Linked DNA regions of Homo sapiens: region 2 is linked to region 1. Evidence: fine-mapped expression QTL. A gene starts in region 1. The other region holds a variant in brackets. All regions are shown on one strand. Distances are between the middles of the regions. Region 1 holds the start of PEG10 (paternally expressed 10). Region 2 has its middle 100 kb from the start of PPP1R9A.

The links. PIP is the estimated chance that this variant, and not a neighbour inherited with it, causes the effect.
Region 2: its variant is fine-mapped to the expression of PEG10 in tibial nerve (GTEx, PIP 0.90).

What each region holds. Positions count from the first base shown.
Region 1 is chr7:94,652,255-94,660,540 of GRCh38, reverse strand. PEG10 (paternally expressed 10) reads right to left here and starts at 4,216. Exons shown (of 2, transcript NM_001172437.2): 1 at 3,950-4,216. The coding sequence starts at 3,954. It overlaps SGCE (sarcoglycan epsilon), which reads left to right and starts at 4,408. Exons shown (of 11, transcript NM_003919.3): 1 at 4,408-4,551. The coding sequence starts at 4,443. RefSeq lists enhancers at 1,890-2,184, 2,964-3,013, 4,283-5,060 and a silencer at 2,254-2,493.
Region 2 is chr7:94,799,386-94,807,730 of GRCh38, reverse strand. It overlaps the pseudogene RN7SKP129. Among named protein-coding and RNA genes, the nearest start is that of PPP1R9A, 100 kb to the left of the region's middle. The variant C/T (reference allele first, on the strand shown) is at 3,865.

The DNA.
Region 1 (8,286 bases):
CGACTGAGGCAGCACAAGTTAACCTGGGACAAGAAGCATGTTTACTTGATTTGAATTATAGAACTATGTATGGCTCCTTAAACTCCCCCTTAGTAGGGGCTGCATTGGAGGGGAGGGGTCAAGAGGTCTCATTCCTGAAAACTGAAAGGACAAACTGCATAAAGCCAAGTTGCCTAGGACAGATGCCATCTTTACATGATAATAATTTCAGTTTTAGTCTTTTTAGGAAATAAATACATTTGGTTAATTATTGACTCTTCACAATAGCTTGGAATAATTTCTATTCCACAAACACACCAAAGAGCAATAGTAGCCAAAAACCATAAATGAACATCCTGTTAGGAAATGACATCTCATTAAGCAACTCTTAGTTGCTTCATATTTTCAAATGTCCAATTTTTTAGTACTATCTTGTACTATTTATGAAATGCAAATTCTCTTAATATGCATGTTATTACTGTTGTTTTGAACCTCTTCAATATGCAAATATACAATATCCAAAGAGAAGGGAAAATTACTTAAAGCTGTAATTATGATAAGCACAAATTTTCCATAGATTGTGTACTTGTGGTGGGGAGGGGGTATGTGACAGAGATTTTTGGGAGCCAAAGCCCCCAATTCCTCCCCTACCAAAGTCCTGGCTCATGATTTGTAATATATGGAACCAGGTTTTAAAATTTCTTCATTCAGCTGGAAACACAATTCTTACATGGTACCTCTTACTAGCAATCAGTTATAAATTTGTTTTATACAGTTGTTTAATTTTGCAAGCTGAAACAACCTATATTTTGTAATGTGGCCACTTTATATTACATTACACAAACTTTAATACAATATGTACCATTAATAATACACTTGCCCCAAATTTAAATTAGCTTTTTATGAAAAAAGCTAATTATTTGGAATAACTAGCTTTTTATGAAAAAAGCTAATTATTTGGAATAACTAGCTTTTTATGAAAAAAGCTAATTATTTGGAATAACTAGCTTTTTATGAAAAAAGCTAATTATTTGGAATAACTAGCTTTTTATGAAAAAAGCTAATTATTTGGAATAACTAGCTTTTTATGAAAAAAGCTAATTATTTGGAATAACTAGCTTTTCATGAAAAAAGCTAATATTTGGAATAACTAGCTTTTTATGAAAAAAGCTAATTATTTGGAATAATTAAAATTAATTTAGTTGCTTTGTATTATAATTACAGCTTATATCATTGGAGTTTAAAAACACATACACTTTTTTTTTATTCTGTTAAATGTGAGAGATAACGCAAACAAGGCAACCCAGGACAGCAAAGCACCATAGGAAAGGAGCAAATCAGAAGAGACCTACAGACACCAAGCAAGACACTGAATAAACCAATTTACTCTGGTCATTTAACACATATTTAATGAATGCCTACCATGTGCAGGCACAATTTATTATACATAGGCAAATAGGCTAGGGTTAATCACCTAGAGATTCAAGGAAAACACCCAGCTTCATAGGCACGCAAATAAAAGCCTTATCCTCACTCAGAGGCCAAACCAACAGCACCAATTTTGTATCCACCAAAACATCCGATTCCCAAAGGTCCACTAGTGCCTCTAAAAAAACCTTAAATGTGAAAATATTTTTAAAGTTTTTAAAAATAAATTGTTAAGTTTTGGTTTTCATTTGCAGTAAAAACATTTGGCTAAATTGCCTTTAGAGGCACCAGCCATGTCAGTTTACAAGGTCCCTTCATAAGCCACTATCAGGAGTTTAAATTGTGGGATTATGTTATTGAATATATGCAAAGAACATATTAAAAGTGCTCATAAATTCCAGTTATAATTATTATTGTTAATTGTTTTATTTATTATTCTATTAGACTCTAGTAGCCAAAAAGCAAAACCAACACAGCAGAGAAACCGCAGGGGGGCGGGGCTGTACAGCCAGGGCTCAGGCAAGGAAGGTGCGCAGGTGCAGAGGACCGGCGCCTGAAGGGAGGGGCTGAGGGTTCACACTGCGCATGTGTGCTAGCCGGCTCTGAGGGAGGTGGGACTATAGGCCAGCCCGGCAGAGGCAGGCTTAGGGAGGGGCCAAGCCTTGGAGAGGCGGGGCCTGAGCAGGCTACCTAAGAGGAGGCGGGCCTGGGGAGGTGGGATCTGGGTGAGCTCACATCAGAGGAGGCGGGCCCAGGAGAGGCGGGGCCTGGGCAGTTCACCTCAGAGGAGGCGGGCCCAGGAGAGGCGGGGCCTGGGCAGTTCACCTCAGAGGAGGCGGGCCCAGGAGAGGTGGGGTCTGGGCAGTTCACCTCAGAGGAGGCGGGCCCAGGAGAGGCGGGGCCTGGGCAGTTCACCTCAGAGGAGGCGGGCCCAGGAGAGGTGGGGCCTGGGCAGTTCACCTCAGAGGGGGCGGCCCCGGGAGAGGCGGGGCCTGGACAGTTCACCTCAGAGTAGGTGGGCCCGGGAGAGGCAGGGCCTGGGCAGCTCACCACAGAAAAGGCGGGCCTGGAAGAGGCGGGGCCTGAGCAGCTCACCTCAGAATGAGGTGGCCAGAGAGAGGTGGGGCCTGGGCAGGCAGGCGCTAAGGAGCTGGGAGGAGGGGCCTGAGGAGGCCGCATCTAGAAGGCGCGCTCTGGGAAGGCGCGCTGCAGGGGAGGCGCGCTCTGAGGAGGCGCTGTAGGAGGAGGCGCTAAGCACCGCAGAGAAGGCACACTAGGATGGGCGGGGCAGGCCTGAGACTGGCTGCTACAGGGCTGCAGAGTATCTGCACACCCCCCCCCCCCGCCGCCAGAATCCCCCCTCCCAAACCCCTCCCACCAGTCACCAAAGCCAGATTCATTTCATGCAGCAAGAGCAATCCACAGATCCAATTCCCCCGCCATACTCAGCAAACCCACAGTTTCCACAAACTGTTGCTGGACGCTGATTCGCGCCACCACAACTACACCGCCACTTCAATCAAGCACAAGTAGGCAGGCAGCCTGCTCTGCCATCACCAAAAGATTCCCATTTCCACTCCAATCAGTGCCCCTCCACTCCACTGCTATAGCGGGAATGGTGTGGGCAGAATGTTAAACACTAATTTTTGCCCGGGGCTCCATTTTGTCTACCAGCACCATCATGCGAGAACCGTCCTGCAGAAAAATAGAGTGGGAGCCATTCCAAAAGGTGAAAGGGTGGGGTCCTGCTCCAAGAAAACAGAGGAATTGTACTCCGCAGCTCATGTCCCACTACGGCTGCTTTATTTGTAGCGCAAACGGTCTGCAGCTCCTGTACCTCTGCAGCTCTTACCACTTTGTAGTGCATCTTAGGTGTGAATTGTTCCGCAGCTCATGTACCTCTGCAGTTCATGTGCCTCGCAGCGCAATGAAGCGCTGTTGTCGGGCTGGCTAATCGCATCGTTTTTGTAGCGTTTTTTGTAGTGCTACTCTTCTGCAGCTCAGATTTTGCAGCGCATGTAAAGCGCAATTCAGTTTTCTGTCTGCAGCTCCTATATCGCTGCTCCTCGTTCTGGATTGTAGCGCCACTGAAGCGCCCATCCGTCAGTTTGTGGCACATAAAGCGCCCATCAGTTTATAGCGCAATGAAGCGCCAGTTGTAGCTCCCATCAGTTTGTCGCCCGCGTGAAGCGTGCTTGTAGCGCATCTGAAGCGCCAGTTTGTAGCGCATTTGAAGCGCTTATCTGTTTGTAAAGCATGGCACTTGGTAGCGCATTTGAAGAGCAAATTGCAAATCGATCTATAGCTCCTGACCGTCTGCAGCTCATCACTGTCCGCAGCTCATCTCTGTCTACAGCCCGTATCTGGACTTGGTCCTGGAAACCCAAGCCTTTAAGGCTTGGTTTCCCCATTTGTTTTGGGGTACAGCCAGTGAAGGCGTGACAAGTTTTGCGTGGAGACATTCTGGGGTGCTACTCCATCTCCCGCAGCTCCCGATAAGCACGGGGAATGAACGTGATCTTTAAAAAAAAAACGTCCTCACCGCATACTCACCACGCGAGGACTCCTCTGCGAAGACAGGAAGGATGGGGTCCCACACCTGAGCCAGGCGCGGTCTCCACTGGGTGCTCCGCAGCCCGGAGTGGCTCCGGACGACAGCCCGCTCAGCGGACCTTTCGCCAGGCTCGGTGGACCTTCTCCGCTGTTCTCCTCAGGGCGCAGTCAGGTTTCTTCGACACACACCAACCGAAGTTGAAGCGCGTGTACCAGGAGCGCAGACTGTGAGCCTTATATAGGTTGCACCGAGGAGGGGGGCGCCAAATCCCAGCGTGCTCCGCGGGCTAGGGGGTGGAGGGGGGTGCGGGGATGGGGGATGGGGGTGGGGGCGGTGGCCACGCTGCAGTGGCCCGCCGCTAGAGGGAGTACGGGATTACCGAGGGGGTGCGGGATGCTGATGCTGAACTGGCCAAGCTGGGAGGGAAGAAGAAAGGGAGGGGAGGGGAGAATCGAGGACGGACGGCCTAGCCAGGCCAAGAATGCAATTGCCCCGGTGGTGGGAGCTGGGAGACCCCTGTGCTTGGACGGGACAGGGTCGGGGGACACGCAGGATGAGCCCCGCGACCACTGGCACATTCTTGCTGACAGGTTAGTGGCCTGCGCGCGACGTGGAGGTCCCGGGGCCAACAGGCCGCCGCCTCCCCCTCCCCCGCTCGGGTTCCGGGCGCCTGAGCGCGCCCTTTGGGCACCAGCCTCTCTTTCTGTCCCGGACCCCACCGTACCCCTCCTTCAGTACACCCTGTACCCCATTTCCCCGGCCCAGCTTCTCTCTCCCCAGGCTTGACCCCTGGCCTTTTTTTCCTCTCCGCGCCCCCGCGGGCCCCTCCCTGCTCTGCGGGCGCAGAAATTCCATCTCCAATTCCTGTTCCCAACATCCCCCTCCCCGCCCAGCCCCAGGGTAGTCCTCTCCCGATCCCTGTAGCAAAGAGCTGGGGGTCGTTGCCTGTTTTTCTGGGGGGCCCGTTTCCCCGCGATTGGGCTCTGCGACCGCGATGCGAGCCAAAGGAAATGGGTGTCAAGCTGCGTCCCCGCTACACAAACACATCTTTTTTCCTTTTCTTGATAGTGGTAGAGAACACAAAAATGTGACATTTAAAACACCGAATTTCCCCCTCTTGCTAAGTGCATTTCTCGGTGACGGAAATCTCGGTTTTCTTCGGTTTTACGGAGCAGGGAAGCGGAATCATGAAATGCTGGGAGCTAAACAGGGCGTTCAGGTCAGGGTTAACCCCGGCTGGAGGCCAGAGATGCTGCCGTACCGAGTGCGCTATTTCCAGAAACCAAAACCAATTTAAAACAGCTGTGGATGCTTCCAGTGTGTTTGGCGGGCTTTGAAGGCTCCCAGCTACCGACTTTTGGTGGCGATTACGAGGTTTACACAGAGACCTTGCTTCCCTTGCAACGTTACATTTTCCTAAATCTTGTAGGGTGAATGAATGCGTTTAGTCACGGCAACCGCACGTTTAATCCTTTCCAGCGGGTTGCCGAGATTCGGCCACAAATATTTGCGTGCATTTGTACTATGAACATATATATTTTATGTCAGGGAAAATTGCAGTGGCTGATAAGACGCTAAAATTCTGATGAGGAAGGATGCTAAATAAAACCTTAACGCGGATTCCCATCTAAGCGCCTCAGTGTCAGGTGCTTGGGAAACTGACAATCTGTTGATGATCTTAGTAAAACAAGTTTAAGTTAAAAGGGAAAACCAAATTGTCTACAGCTGAGTTAGGTTTCTGAAACACAGATGAAACGCTTTCATATTTGAAGAGCAAAATTGAGCACATTTTAGTAACATTGCTACGGATTATTTTATACTTGGAATATCAATAAGAATTTGACTTATTGTCATAACAACGTTGCAGACACCGCACTTTAAAAGAGAGCCTTTCTAGGAATAAACAAAACTGTAGCCCATTTACTGAGATTTTACTTTTTATTAGAAAATGCCCACTATCCGGAATATGAATGAATGAAATGCAGCTTTTTAACAAAGACATTTCCCTAGGAAGTTGGGTAAACACAATTATACTTTTTAGAAGTGCCTTTTAATTTAATCTTTAGGATGTTCACCCTCTTCTGCAAGATAGAATAATTCCAGGATTTCTTATGCTTGGTAGAGTACTGTTCTGGTGACCGCTGTCAAATTCTTACCAGTTTTGTTTGTTTGTTTAAATTCGAAAGTTACTTCACCTAGTTAACTGAGACATTATTTTTCTAAAAATTGAGATTTAAAACCAGTATAGATGAAAAGCAGGAAAAATTAAAGTTCAAAAATCCATCTTAAGACTTTAAAAGTTTGAACAAGTTTGAACCAATTTGATTTTTTCATTTCAAAATGCTAACCAGGACTTTTTTTAAAAAACGTAATTAGTATTTTACCATAATAAAAGTAATTTCAGGTCATTGTACAAAATTCAGGAGAGAAAACCCTAGAAAACTCTAAAGAAAAGGTCACCTGTAACCTATTCACCCTGCAATAACACCAGTAAACATTATAGAGTCTGCTTTTTCAGACGTTCTCTATGCATATATAGGTAGCTATACAATAAATATTTTTCATAGGATTGCAGTTAAATACTTTCTAAAAGTTAAAAACAAGATCAAATTAATTCTCCTCGATTATTTTCTTTCCAAAGAGCCTTTAAATGTTAAATAACATTAAGTTTGGAGAGCTTTCTTTAAAGGAAATAATATTAATTTTTTAATTAAAATTTTAAATGAACAACCTTAGTACATAAATATTTAAAACCAGAAAACTGAGAAGAATTTTCTCCCATCTCACTATTCTAACATATTGTAGTTTTTTATTCCTCTACATATGAAAATATTTTCACTTTGCTTAGAAATAGAATTTTCTAAGGGAAAAAACAGCATCAATATATAAGTAATTTAGATAAAACCTTTTTGTTATCCAAAAAACAAAACAATACTAAAAATAAAACAGAAAGATAACATTAATAGAGCAATACTTTAGGTAACATTTTTGTGTTGTCTAGAACAACAAACATTTTCAAAACCAAAACCAAAACCAAATTAATAGATAAGAACTTTAAACATATTTTGGATATTTAATATCTATGTGAATTTTGGATTTTCTCAGATATTTATTTCTGGTGTTGACTATTTCTGCCCATTTTGCACAGGGTTGCATATACAGCAAAGAGGAGTTAATGTGTATTATTTATTTTATCAAATAATAACTGGGCTTCGTATTTAGACATTTTATCTATTTTTATGAGAATTTGCTGTAGATCTACGAAGCTGTTGATTTAACACCTATATTTAACTTCTAGTATGTTAAGAAAATTGTATTTCAAAACAAAGTGGGATTTTCACTTGTTAGATAATAACTAGACTTTCTCTTTGGACATTTTACCCATTTAATGAAAATTTGCCATGTATTTATAAAGCTGTTGAATTTACCTTATGTATTTAGCTTAAGTTCTAGGGTTTTAGAAAACGATTTCAAAACAAACTGGAATTTTCACTTGTAAAATAGTAATTGTACTTTCTATTTGGACATTTTATCCCTTTTTAATGACAATTTGCTATAGATCTATGCATCTGCTGACTTACCACATATATTTGGCTTAATTTCTAATATAGAGAAAATATATTTCTAAGCAAAGTAAAATTTTCAGTTGTCAAATAATAACTGGACTTTCTATTTGGACACCTTATTCATTTTTAATGACAATTGCTATGGATTTACGAACCTGCTGACTTACCACCTGTATTTGGCTTAAGTTCTGGTATGGTACGGAAAATTTATTTCTAAGCAAAGTACAATTTCCAGTTGTCAAAGAGTAAGTGGACTTTGTATTGAACATTTTATCCATTTTTACAACAGTTTGCCATAAATCTAAAAGCTGTTGATTTGCTTCATGTATTTTACTTATCCTATAGTATGGTGGATAAATTGCATTTCTAAGCAAAGTGGCATTTTCACTTGTCTCACAGACATTGAAAATAAGGGACAACACCAGAAAAAACTGGTTAGCGACAACCTCAAGGAAATAAAGATAACATGTATCCAGTTTCTAACACTAGTTTTCCACTGGTGAAAATCATGCAGTACACAAAATATTGAAGTAGTGAAGAAATCCTGACTTGTTAAAAAAATTCCCAAGTCAAATATTCAGATTGTTTCTGATTCTAATAAGTGCAGTATTTATAGATCACATTTTCTCCAAAATACCCAGCCACCTTCTTCCTTTTTCTTTTTTGCTAATTATCCATAATCTACCCAAATCCTTTCCTTAAAACTTACCCTTCCATATTCTGTAAACACCTAAATGCATATTCTAACACTTATTTCCT
Region 2 (8,345 bases), 150 kb before region 1:
CTCTTAATCCTGTCAGCTGAGGAGGATGTATATCGCCTCAGGACCCTGTAATAATTGCATTAACTGCACAAATTGTACAGCATGTGGGTTTGAGCAATATGAAATCTGGGCACCTTGAAAAAAAGAACAGGATAACAGCAATGTTTAGGAAACAAGAGAGATAACCTTAAACTCTTACCGCTGGTGACCCGGGCGGAACACAGCCATATTTCTCTTCTTTCAAAAGCAAATGGGAGAAATATCGCTGAATTCTTTTTCTCAGCAAGGAACATCCCTGAGAAAGAGAATGCGCACCTGGGGGTGGGTCTCTGAACTGGATCCCCTGGGCATGGCCATCTCCTGTGGTCGAGACTGCAGGGGTGAAATAGACCCCAGTCTCCCATAGTGCTCCCAGGCTTATTAGGAAGAGGAAATTCCCGCCTAATAAATTTTGGTCAGACTGGTTGATCTCAAAACCCTGTCTCCTGATAAGATGTCAATGACAATGGTGCCCAAAACTTCATTAGCAATTTTAATTTCGCCCCGGTCCTATAGTCCTGTGATCTCGCCCTGCCTCCACTTGCCTTGTGATATTCTATTACCTTGTAAAGTACTTGATGTCTGTGACCCACACCTATTCGCACACTCCCTCTCCTTTTGAAACTCCCTAATAAAAACTTGCTGGTTTTTGCGGTTTGTGGGGCATCACGGAACCTACCGACATGTGATGTCTCCCCTGGATGCCCAGCTTTAAAATTTCTCTCTTTTGTACTTTGTCCCTTTATTTCTCAAGCTGGCCGATGCTTAAGGAAAATAGAAAAGAACCTACGTGAGTATCGGGGCAGATTCCCTGATAGATTTCTAGTTTTATTCTATTGCGGTCTGAGAAGATACTTGATATAATTTTGATCCAAAATTTTTTAGACTTGTTTTGTGTCCTAACATATTGTCTACCCTGATGAATGTTTCATGTGCTAGTGAAAAGAATGTATGCAGACAGTTAGATAAAATGTTCTGTAAACCTCTATAACATCCATTTGGTCTGAAGTCCAGTTTAAACCCAGTGTTTCTTAGTTGAATTTCTGTCTAGCTAATCTGTCTTATGCTGAGAATGGGGTCTATTATTGTATTGTAGTTTATCTTTCTCTTTAGATCTAGTAATATTTGCTTTATGAATCTGTGTGCTCCCTGCTTCTCTCTCTTGCAATTATATATATATATATCTCTCTCTCGCAACTATATATGTGTATATAATATATATACACACATATATGTATATAATATATACACACATATATACATATATAATATACACATATATATGTGTATATTATATATGTATATACACATATATAGTTGCGAGAGAGAGAAGCAGCTCTCGCAACTTCTTTGTACAATAATCAGGAAAAAATTGGCCTTATACAATTATTTTATTCTTAATTATTGTGAGTCATATGGTTTGAAAGCTGAGTTCTGTAAGCAAAGCCAAAAGTCATTTTTCTATTTTTTAATTTGTTTATAGATTGTAAATAAAACAATTTTTAAAATGTGAAGGTAAGCACAATTAAAGGTGTTCATTATTAGATATAGTTTAGTCACTCTAACCAAACATATTTACTAACATATTATGCAAATTAACACATTTATTTAGCACAATAATTATTATTCAGAAGGATTGAGGGATTTTTTTTTTTTAAAAGCATGGGGCCTTTGCTAACAAAGCCTCAGAAGTCATGTAGCATCTCTACTGGCACATTCTATTCATTGATGAGTCCTCCCTGGTTCAAGTGGAGGGATTGTGGACTCCTCTTTATGAGAGGAGCATCAACAAATTTGTGTAAGTGATTTAAAACTACCACAATGACTGCCTGTTTCTGTCTAAAATCCAGATAAGTCTTTTTGGTAGATTGCATTATTGGCCCAATTATTCAACTACCTCTGTATGACAATCTGTTTTAGTCTAGTTTGGATGAGATAACAAAATACCATAGACTGGGCAGCTTAAACAATAGAAATTTATTCTATCATAGTTATGAAGGCTGAGAAATCCAAGATCAAGGTGCCAACAGATTTGATTCTTGGTGAGAGCCTGCTTCCTTGCTTAAAGATAGCCAACTTCTCGCTCTGTCCTCACATAGTGGAAAGAGGAAGCTGTTGCCTTCCTCTTACAAGAGCACTAATCTCATCATGGGGGCTTTACCCTCATGACTTTATCTAAACCTAATTATCTTTCAAAGAATCTACCTCTTAATATCATCATATTGGGAGTTAGGGCTTTGACTTATACATTTAGGGGAAACACAAATGTTCAGTCCATAACACAACACTTCCATGTAACTTTGCAGTCTCTTGTATGCCTTCATAGGAAAGGTAATTTTTTTTTCTGCCCATTGACTTTAGCCATGAACATGTGGAATTGCTTTGGTCAATAATATATTAGCAGAAGTAACGCAGCAGAATTTGAAATGCTCTTGGGTCATAGGGATGCCCTCTTGAGCTTTGTCACTGCCATTAGAACTTTATCTAGCTTTATTTTAGGTCCCAGAAGGAAGATGAAAGAGTTAGAAAGCAGATCCATCCCAGCTACCACAATCTGAAAAGGAAGCACCCCAGCAAACCTACAGAATTATAGGAAAAAGCAGACGTGCCCAGCCAAATTCCTCCCAGGCCAGCTAAACTCCAGGAAAGCCACAGATAAATAAATATTTTAAGCTACTTAGTTTTGGGGTTGTTTGCAATGCAGCAATAGTCAACCAAACTAGTTTTATATTATTCAAGTATACCCTGATTTAACTTTCCACAGTGGAATTACAAAATATTTCTATATATGTCATTTATATTTCCTTTCAAGTGTATGCTTAAGTGTTTTTGCTTTTGTGTTGTTACTTGAACGAGTGTTGTTGCATTACATTTTTGAATTGTAGACAGCAAGGCAATTAAGATTTGATTATGAATTTTGCTTCCAACTACTTTATGTCTTATTATCACTAATACCTTTATAATAGTAATTGTAAAAACTTGATTTTATTTTGTATAGATACCATATGGTTTGATTATATTTAAATCTATGTTTCACTGTATTTAAAGTTTAACACTACATTTTTTTTCATTCAGAATCTTACCAGGGAGTTTATTATTTCAAGTCATCTTTTATGTAACTGGACAATATCCTTAAATGATTTTTTAATCGACTCAATATAGACATAATTTACATGCAACAAAATATGCATATTTTAAGTGTATAGTTTAATGAGTTTTGACAAACATATACAACTACGTAACCACCACTATAATCAAGATTCAGAATGTTTCAATTACTCTAAAAGGATCTGTTGAGCCCCTCTGAAGTCAAACTCTATCCTGAACTGCAAAGTATCCCAGATCTCCTTTCTGTCAAAATAATTCTCTTCAAGAATTTGGTAAAACTGTAATCATACAGTATATATTCCCTTGTATCTGGCTTCTGTGGTTTAACACAATATTTTTGCAATTTATTCATGTATCAGAATTATTGCTGAATTAAAAATTTTTTAAATTACCAAATAGTATTTTGGTATATGAATTTATCAAAATTTACTCATTTGCTAATCAATAGACATTTGGGATGTTTCCAGATTTGGGTTGGTATGTTAATCACTCACATTCTTATTTAAGTACTATTCTTTTGTGAGTCTTTTATTAGATATGTCATTTCTCTTAAATATATACCTAACAATAGAATTGCTGAGTCATGAGGTAGATGTATTTTTATTGTTATTAGAAATTGCCAAAAAGGTGGCCAGGCATGGCGGCTCACACCTGTAATCCTAGCACTTTAGAAAGTTGAGGCAGGCAGATCACCTGAGGTCAGGAGTTCAAGACCAGCCTGGCCAACATGGCGAAAAC[C/T]CATCTTTACTAAAAATACAAAGAAAAAAAAAATTAGCCAGGTATGGTGGTGGGTGCCTGTAATCATGGCTACTCGGGAGGCTGAGGTAGGATAATTGCTTAAACCAGGGGGCCAGATTTGCAGTGAGCTGAGATTACACCACTGCACTCTAGCCTGGGCAACAGAGTGAGACTCCATCTCAAAAAAAAAAAAAAATTGCCAGAAAGGCTTACAAAATGGTTTTACTATTATAAACTTCTACCAACAATCTATGAATGTTCCAGTTGCTCCACATTCTTATCAATATTTGGTAATATTAGGTGGGTGCAAAAGTAATCCTGGTTTTTGCCATTACTTTTAATGTTTTATATTAAGGTTTTCAATTTTAGCCATTCTAGTGGATAGGTAGTGTTATCAAATTGTGGTCTTAATTTGCATTTCTATAATGAATAAGGATGTTGTGGAACATCTTTTCATTTATAGTCATGTATCACTTAACAACAGGGATGTTTCCTGAGAAGTGTGTTATTAGGTGATTTTGTTGTTGTGCGAATATCATAGACTGTACTTACACAAACCTAGATATTATAGCCTACTACACACTAGGCTGTGTGGTATAGCCTATTGCTCCTAGGCTACAAACCTGTAGAGCATGTTAAAGTGTTGAACACTGTAGGGAACTGTAATACAATGGTAGGTATTTGTGTATCTAAACATAGAAAAAGTATAGTAAAAATATTATACAAAAATACAAAATGGTCCACCTGTATAGGGTACTTACCATAAATGGAGCTTCCCAGACTGGAATTTGCTCTGGGGAGTCTGTAAGTGAGTGGTGAGTGAATGGAAATGCCTAGACATTATTGTACACTACTGTAGACTTTAGAAACACTGTATATGTAAGCTACACTTAATCTATTGAAAAATATTTCTCTTTCATCAGTAATAAATTAACCTTAGCTTATTGTAATTTTTTTACTTTATAAACATTTAAATTTTGTAACTTTTCAACTTTCTTATAATAACACTTAGCTTAAAACACAAACACACTGTATAGCTATACAAAAATATTTTTTCTTTCTACCCTTATTCTATAACATTTTCTGTTCAAAAATTTTCATAAATTTTTTCACTGTTTAAACTTTTCTGTTAAAAACTAAGAAACAAACACACACATTATCCTAGTCCTACATAGGGAGGGGATTATCACTGTCACTGTCTTTTACCTCCACATCTTGTCCCATTGGAATGTCTTCAGGGCAGTAACACGTGGAGCTGGCATCCTCTGTGATAGTAATGCCTTCTTGTGGAATATCTTCTGAAGGACCTGTCTGAGGCTGTTTTACAATCAATTTTTTTAAAAAATAAGTAGAGTACATTCTAAAAAAAATAGGGGCAAGGTGCAATGGCTCATACCTGTAATCCCAGTGTGTTGGGAAGCTGAGGTGGGAAGATCTCTTGAGGATAGGATTTTAAGACCAGTCTGGGCAACATAGCGAGACCCCATCTCTAAATAAATATAGTTGGGCATGGTGGCATGCATCTGTAGTCCTAGCTACTCAGGAGGCTGGCTTCCAGGAGTTTGAGGCTGCAATGAGTTATGTACGATAGTGCCGCTGCACTCCAGCCTAGGCAACAGAGCAAGATCTTGTCTTTAAATAAATCAATAAAATGACAACTACAGTAAAATAAATACATAAACCAACAATATGGTTGTTTATTATTATTATCAAGTATTATACATAGTTACATATACATACATAATTGTATGTGCTATACAAGTAGGTTTGTTTACACCAGCAACACCAAAAACACATGAGCAATACTTTGTGCTAGGAAGGCTATGATGTCATCAGGCAATAGGAATTTTTCAGTTTCATTATAATCTTATGGGACCACCATCATATATGTGGTACATTGTTGGCCAAAATGTCATTATGCAGCTCACAACAGTATTTCATGTCCATTCAAATATCTTCTTTTGTGAAATGTCTATTTAAATCTTTTGCGTATTTTTAAATTGGGTTGCTTGTATTTTGATTGATTAGGAAAAGTTATTTCTATATTCTGTGTCATATACTTGTGTTGAAATATATATATTTTTTGTCTGTGCCTTTTTATTTGCTCAGGGTCTTTGGACCTTGTTTGGAGGTTCTGGCAGGGGAACACAGCTACTCATTTATTCTTGATGGAAGGAAGGTCCTCCTCTGTGAGAGAAGCTCATGCTCTTCAACCCAAGCTTGCAGCTTCAGGAGGGAGGCACATGGAGCCATAAAGGAAGAAGGGGACACCCGCCTTTCCAGCCAGATCAGCCAAATCAACACTGGCAATCAATGAGGTGACAGATGTTGCAGCTAGATCACCCTCACATCCAATTTGGTTAGGGTCTTTGGAAGAACAGTTTTAGGAGGCAATTCTTCATGGGCCTGTTATGTTTCTTCATTTATTTTAAGCAAGACACTATTGTGAGCTTTTCTCTGGAATATCATTTAAAGGATGTTTGCATAGCAAGCAGCCATAGAAGAAAAACAAGGTGTCTTCCTTCATAGCAAAGCACGGCATGCTGACTGCCAGTATAATAAAGAGCATGTCTCCTTCCGAACTGAAGGGCAGCTATGCTTACTGCACATAGTAAAAGATTTGAGTTCCCTAAGCTCAGGGGTCCTCTTCAATAATGCAACTCACTGCATGTTTGGGCATTCAGCTGGGCCCATCTGCTTCGCTTCTGCAGGATTTGGGGGCAAAAGGAACTGATAAATGCTAATGGTCATGCTGCTTGCTGTGCCATGAGTGATGACTCAGGAGTCTGGGTGACAGTGTTCACGGGACAGAGGTAACTTCCTAGTTTGTAAGTTGGATAAAGTCAAGTATCTCAATACTTCAGTTCTTGACAAGTAGACATGTTGAATATTGATGCAGTATATTTGGTCAATTTTTGATCTTCTACTTTGTGCTTTTTTGTGTTTTTTAAAGGAAAATATTTTAAGGTCACTAGGATTTTCTTCTAAAATTTTATAGTTTTGCTTTTATGTTTAAGTCTGTGATCCTTTCCAATTTAATTTATGTGTGTGTTTTAAAGTACGGGTCAAGTTGCATTTTTAAAAAATATTAATATCTATTTGTTCTAGCACCATTTATTGTAGAACTATTGTTATCCTCACTGAATTATCTGGGCACCTTCATAGTCAAAGGACCATAGATGCATGGGTTTAGTTTCAGACTCTCTTTTAGTTTTAATAGCCTAACTTTTTTTTTTTTTTTGAGACAGCATCTTGCTCTGTTGCCCAGGCTGAAGTGCAGGCATGATCACAGCTTATCGCAACCTTAACCTTTCACCATGTTGTCCAGGCCAGTCTTTTTTTTTTTTTTTTTAATTATACTTTCAGTTCTAGGGTACATGGGCCCAACGTGCAGGTTTGCTACATAGGTATACATGTGCCATTTTGATTTGCTGCACGCATCAAGTCGTCACTTACATTAGGTATTTCTCCTAATGCTATCCCTACCCATCACCCCACTCCCCAACAGGCCTCAGTGTGTGATGTTCCCCTCCCTGTGTTCATGTGTTCTCATTGTTCAACTGCCACTTATGAGTGAGAACATGTGGTATTTGGTTTTCTGTCCTTGTGATATTTTGCTGAGAATGATGGTTTCCAGCTTCATCCATGTCCCTGAAAAGGACATGAACTCATCCTTTTTTATGGCTGCATAGCATTCCATGGTATATATGTGCCTCATTTTCTTTATCCAGTCTATTATTTATGGACATTTGGGTTGGTTCCAAGTCTTTGCTATTGTAAATAGTGCCACAATAAACATACATGTGCATGTGTCTTTATAGTAGCAAGATTTATAATCCTTTGGGTATATACCCAGTAATGGGATTGCTGGATAAAATGGTATTTCTAGTTCTAGATCCTTGAGGAATCACCACACTGTCTTCCACAATGTTTGAACTAATTTATACTCCCACCAACAGTGTAAAAGCGTTCCTATTTCTCCACATCTTCTCCAGCATCTGTTGTTTCCTGACTTTTTAATGACCACCATTCTAACTGGCGTGAGATGGTATCCCATTGTGCTTTGATTTGCGTTTCTGTGATGACCAGTGATGATGAGCTTTTTTTTGTATGTCTGTTGGCTGCATAAATATCTTTTGAGAAGTGTCTGTTCATATCCTTTGGCCACTTTTTGATGGGGTTGTTTTTTTCTTGTAAATTTGTTTAAGTTCTTTGTAGATTCTGGATATTAGCCCTTTGTCAGATGGATAGATTGCAAAATTTTTCTCCCATTCTGTAGGCTGCCTGTACTCTCTGCTGATAGTTTCTCTTGCTGTGCAGAAGCTCTTTAGTTTAATTAGATCCAATTTGTCAATTTTGGCTTTTGTTGCCATTGCTTTTGGTGTTTTAGTCATGAAGTCTTTGCCCATGCCTATGTCCTGAATGGTATTGCCTAGGTTTTGTTCTAGGATTTTTATGGTTTTAGGTCTTACATTTAAGTC